Linked DNA regions of Homo sapiens: region 1 is linked to region 2. Evidence: fine-mapped expression QTL. Tissue or cell type: blood mononuclear cells. Region 2 holds a variant in brackets; the other region holds the start of a gene. All regions are shown on one strand. Distances are from middle to middle.

Region 1 (2,908 bases), 40 kb before region 2:
GAGGCAGGAAAATCACATGAACCCAGGAGGTGGAGGTTGCAGTGAGCCAAAATCACCCCACTTGCACTCCAGTCTGGGCGACAGAGTGAGACTCCATCAAAAAATATATATATATATATTTTCCAGTATTTTCATCTAAAAGCTCCAAGTTTTGCATTTCACACTTAGTCCTTCAAATCTTTCTTGAGCTTAATATTTGTGTTTGATTTGGGGTAGTGATCCATTTTCTTCCATTTGGAAAACCAGCGGTCCCAGTACCCATTTATTGACTAGCCCACCTCTTCCTCACCAATCCCGCAAGGCCATTTCTGTCATCTGTCAAGGCTTGGGCTCTCTGCCCTGTTCCACTGGTCTTTTTGTCTACCCCGGGTGACAAACATGCTGTCTTAATTACTTTATTTAAAAAAATAAAAGGGTCTTTGGCATTCAGTAAAGCAAGTTCCTCCACCTCTCCACCTCATTCTTTCTCAAAATTATTTTGGCCATTTTGGGCACAACTTTAATCTTTCTCCTCTCCTTGATTTGCCCTAGCCTACTACAAGCAATCAAATGGCAAGACTTAAAGTAAGCAGAAGGGAGAAATCAAGCCAAAGCCAGCCCTGGGTAGTCCATAAGCTGAATATTTGGTTCCTAATAACTAAGACATTGCTGTGTAGTCAAGAGTATAGACAGCCTATATATTAATAAAAGTAGAGTATGTGTTTACAAAAAAAACAAAACTATTTTTTTAAATCTTTTCCAGGCTATAACAAGGGCCACATTTAAAAATAGAAACTGGAGCCCATCCTCTGGTCAGTACCAAGGTTCTTGCCTTTATTTTTAAAAATACTACTTTTAAATCTATTTTTTGCATACAGATAGTCACAGAGAGTTTTGTGAAATAGTGCTAAAACTGTTCACTTTTGCCTAGATCCCTCAGAACATCCAAACCAAAGGTCAGTCACTAGGAGACATCCCAGGAGCATGCTAATTCCATCACAGCAGGGCCTAAGAATGAGGTCATCTTTCTCTCATTCAAGGGAGACCTTAGTTTCCTGCTCTCAGCGACACTTCCATAGCCTCATGATAGCTGCTTGGTGTTCTACAGTGTCTCCAGATCCAGACCCTCTTATATGGACCGCAGGACAAAAGGACTCTGGCCACCCAGCAGGCCATGGGCATGCTGTCCACGTGAGTTGGCGTCCCTCACACTTTCTCTATCTCATTCCCTTTCCATTCAGAATCTCAAGAGAAAGCTGGTTCTAGAAGGTTCTGTGTAACCTTCTCTGGAATGTTTTGCTGACTTCCCATAACTTGCATAAAGGACAAGTTCCTTTGAAACCCGAGTTGTAAAAGATCTTCCTTGCCCAGGTATTTAAAAATAATTCATCCTTTAAGTCAGAAATATATGCTGGATGTTGTCTTCCTGCAGACCAGCCCCTGCAGGCTAAGGCACCTGCTGCAGGGGGAGGGCCCCGGGAATCCCTGTGGCCTCCTGCAGCCCTGCTTCCGGCTTCCCTCTGCCCTCGGATGCCCGTCAGGACTGGAGCCGGAAGGTTCACTGACTGACCTTAAAGGCTGGCCCCTACGTCCTTTCTCAGCCCGAGCAGAGGCCCAGCGCTCTGCCGTGGAGGGCCTACCTCACAGAGCCTGGTCCGCAGAGAGCAGCCCCAGGGCTGCCTGAGTCTGCTCAGGGAAACAGGGCCACAGCCCGGAGCAGACACAACCTGGCCAGCAGGGCGCCATCCCCTTTGAGGGCAGGGAAGGCGAGCCAGGGAGGCCTCCAGTGCAACCCTGACCATCCTCCTCACCCATGTCCTGCTCACCAAGCCAGCTAAGGGTTGAGGGCCTCAGCTCAGTGAGGATGGTCACAGGTGATTTTAAAAGATGGGAGGGGCCAGGCGAGGTGACTCATGCCTATAATCCCAGCACCTTGGGAGGCCGAGGCGGTGGATCACTTGAGGCCAGGAGTTTGAGACCAGACTGGCCAACATGGCAAAACTTCGTCTCTACTAAAAATACAAAAATTAGCTGGGCGTGGTGGCATGTGCCTGTAATCCTGGCTACTCGGGAGACTGAGGCATGAGAGTTGCTTGAACCTGGGAGGCGGAAGTTGCAGGGAGCCGAGATGGGGCCACTGCACTCCAGCCTGGGTGACAGAGTGAGACTCTGTCTGAAAAAAAAAAAATTAAAAAAATAAAAGATGGGAGGAAAACATCTCATGTTTTATGCTCTGTGCTACAATTCTCCTCTCATTTATAGCCCCTACCAAGTCTTCTCATAAATGGGTCTGGGCACCTGCTGGGCAGCAAAGGCTGGATGGGAACGGTGTGGGGGGCTGAGGGGCACCACACTCACCCCACCCTCTGCTTGTCTGCAGGGCCCCCAAGGTTGCTTCGAAGCCAAGGCAGGCATCAAAAGCCAAAGTGGCCTTCTGCACCAGCATCCCTCAGGACACCCTGCTGGGGAAGGCCCGGCCCGGCACAACAGCAGACTGAGGCCCCCACCCTGAAAAAGCCTAGGACATTCCTGGGCACTGTCATTTAGGGTGCTGTACAAATCACCTCCGCCTAGAAAATGGAATTCAACAGTCAGGATACAGATTTCCAAGGCCAACTGTTGGCCCCAACATGCAACAGTGAGACCATAAGCCTCCCGTGGGCCACATTTTGACAGTGGATGCCCTTCAGGGTGATATATGCTATAAAGCAGTTTTCTATCACCTAAGTGGTTTTTCTTGCCAACAAGAATTTTTACCCATCAGCACTACTGTGGCTGAAAAACTTCTCTTCAACAGTTCAGTGCGCCCTGTGCAGGAGTCAGCCCGGCATCTGCTTGTACACACAGCTCCTTGCATAGGTGTGGAGTTAGATCTGGACAGTGAACTTCAGGAAGTCCTTTCTTATAGGAGGCTAATAGGGATTGAGAA
Region 2 (2,908 bases):
GATCCCACGGGCCCCTTGTGCCCTACTTCCCAGAGGTAGCCTTGGGGAAGTTGTGGGCCTGAGCGGAAGGGCCACAGCATGGCCCAGGATAGCCTTCCTCCATGCCCTCGCCCTGCACCCCATCTCCCCCAGCCTGAGTGAGGCCAGGGGCCTGAGCACCACCTGGAAGTGGCAGAGGACCGCAGACCTGTGGGAGCCACTCCACCAGCATGGGGCCACACCAGCAGGGCCACATCCGTCTCTAAGGTTCCTTTGTGCAAATTGGGAAAAGGCACCCTTTGTGGGAAGATGGATGAGCCCACTGGGTGCATGACCTGGTCCGTGGATGGTTCCTTGGTGCTAAGGAAGAGATGCCCTGCCTCAGGGTGGAGGCTGTCCTGCACCCACTTCCATAGCTCAGCAAGGACAGCACAGGTGGGATTTCAGTCCCACTGATCACCCCATCCGGATATGTTTGTGCAGTGAACAAGCTGGTTAACTATCCAAAGTGGTCCACTGTCCCAGCCTCTGCCTGTAGGGATGAAGATCTAGGGCTCTCTTGGAAGGCTAGTGGATGCCAGCACTGATGGGTGGCATGAGGACCAGGTGGGCCCCCCACCCTGGTGCCTTAGCACTGTGTAAGTCCTCAACAGTTCTGGTGCAATCTAGGGAAGGGGATCAGGTCTCTAACCCCTTGAATGGATGGGGATTGAGTTTTCATCACCCTGTGCTTATTCCCTGCCTCCCTAAGTTTGTGGACCGAGAGGCATGCTTGCCCCCGACAGGCTTGGCCAGGTAGGAAATGAAGCCAGTGGGAAAGGGAAGTGCGTCGAGCTGGCGGGAAGGGCTGGGCCAGGCACAGTGGTGTGGAGTGGACTGACCCACTTTGCATCCTGGCACTTAGTACCAGCATAAGCTTAGGCATGACAACCCCTCTGAGCCCACCTCCTTATCCATATAATAGTAATAATGAGAACAAAATAGACCTTCTTATAGAGGTGTTAGAAAGACTAAGCTTTCACGTCCATTGGCCTCAATGGAGAGCTTGTTAAAATGCAGATCCCTGGGCCCCACACACAGAGTTTCAGAGTCAGTAGCCTGGAGTGGGCTAAGCATTAGTCCATTCCCAGGTGAGGAAGATGCTGCCAGGCAAGGACCACAAGGAAACCTCCTGGCTCCCACCATCAGAGTTAGTCCTTGTATAGTCTTGCCACGCCAGGCACTGTTCTGAGCTCTTCATGTGGATGAACTCACAAGCAGTACAGCAGCCCGTGCAG[C/T]GGGTACCATCAGCTCGAGGTGAATGATGTGGAGGCTGAGCCACAGGGTGGTCAGCTTGCCCGAGCCCGTGCAAGTAAAAAGTGGCAGAACCAGGATTTGAACCCTTACCTTACCCACTTTGCCACACTGCCCGTTACGCTGTGTGAGACGTGTTGCACAAGACTTGGCACACCGCACTCAGCAAGTGCTGGTCATCTTCATGGGAGAGGTCCTGGAGCCCAGAATCACATGGAGCCCACCGGTCAGAGGTCTGTCTCCAGAAGGCCAGGGAGAGAGGCTGAAGAGTCAGGGCACAGATGCAGATGATGGCAGCTCCGCAGGGTCTGAGACCAGCTGGGTCTAGGGAGCAGGAGGACAGGGACGAGCTGGTCCTTGAGCCTCCCAGACTCAGTTTCCTCATCTGTAAAGTAAGGATAACCCCTCCCTCATAGGATCGCTACAAGGGATAAGTAAGATGAGAATGTAAAGGCCTCAGGACACAGCGTCTTCATGCTCCGTCTCACTCCAAAATCCGAATCCAGCCACTCTTGCTCAGAGCCCACAGTGTCCCCACTCTGTCACAGCTCTTCTGGCTATTTTGGGTGGGTAGATCATTTGTCACTGTTTCATAGGAGCACAGCAGGTGTTTGTTGGGGTATAGGCTGCCTTTTCAAAAGGTACAAAAATAGCATTTGTCACATAAAAAAAATGCAGTAATCTAAGCTGCACAACTTCCCTCTCTTAATTTGGAAAGTCATGTCATAATCATTACAAATGAACTTGGGAAGAGCCCCAAGTGACAAAGAAACATCCCCTGTTTAATCTTCCCAACAGGGACAAGACTTCTCACTTCCACTGAAGAACTAAAAAAAGAATAATTTGCCGTCAAAGAACAGCATATTTGCTCTCCCTGCCCTTAGAAGCACATTTTCTGTGGAGTTTGTTGGTGGTGTTCATGATAGGGTAACTCGAAAGCTAGTTTTTGAGTCCCCTCTGTGTGCCTGGTGCTGGGCTGGGCCCTGGGAACACAGAAAGGAGAAAGACACAGCCGTCTTCCTCATAGACCCGGGGCCTGGGGAGGCCAGAGAGCTTGGGGAAGTTCCTCTCTTCCCCCAACGCTGTCACAAGTGCCTGCTTCTCCCTAATTGCCACCCACCAGTCGTTTAGCCACTCACCTCTTCTCTATCTACCTGCTGCTGCTCCAATCCAATCTCATGGCTTTAAATACAGTAACATGCCAGTGATCCTCGGATGTGTCGCTGCAGCCCAGACTGCTGTTCTGACCCCGCTGTGTCTTGGGCAGGGCTCTGTGGATGACATGACCCCCATAGATCCCTACTCTAACACGGGGGCCATGGTGGTGCTATGGGTCCCTGGGTATCCGCATCAATTTGGACGCCACAGTAGGAACCAACCATCCTGAAAAGAAATGAGTGCTCGCGTCCTAACTGGCTGCAGTCGCTCTGGGGAAGGACCAAGGCTCTCACTTGCCATAGAGGTTGTCGGGTCCTTTCAGCCAGTGTGTTCTGGTGGCTCAGGGTCAGAAAACTGGATCATAACTTGGCTTAGAAGTGTTTTTGATTATATATATACTTGGGGATGTTTCTGCCGGCAGCCCATTTATCTTTCCCCTAGGAACACCGTGTTCTATGATTCACAGATCCCTCAGATC

Evidence for each region. PIP is the estimated chance that this variant, and not a neighbour inherited with it, causes the effect. A credible set is the group of variants that fine-mapping cannot tell apart.
Region 1: it holds the start of TTC23-AS1, and the variant in region 2 is the best candidate, but not a certain one, in a credible set for the expression of TTC23-AS1 in blood mononuclear cells (TOPMed, PIP 0.53).

The regions. Positions count from the first base shown.
Region 1 is chr15:99,137,579-99,140,486 of GRCh38, reverse strand. It overlaps TTC23-AS1 (TTC23 antisense RNA 1), which reads right to left and starts at 1,170. Exons shown (of 2, transcript NR_186223.1): 1 at 1-1,170. TTC23 (tetratricopeptide repeat domain 23) reads left to right here. Exons shown (of 14, transcript NM_001288615.3): 13 at 1,088-1,170; 14 at 2,360-2,908. The coding sequence ends at 2,477. It also overlaps a transcript of SYNM not described here.
Region 2 is chr15:99,097,095-99,100,002 of GRCh38, reverse strand. The region is part of intron 2 of SYNM-AS1 (SYNM antisense RNA 1); the gene reads left to right. Among named protein-coding and RNA genes, the nearest start is that of SYNM, 6.5 kb to the left of the region's middle. The variant C/T (reference allele first, on the strand shown) is at 1,257.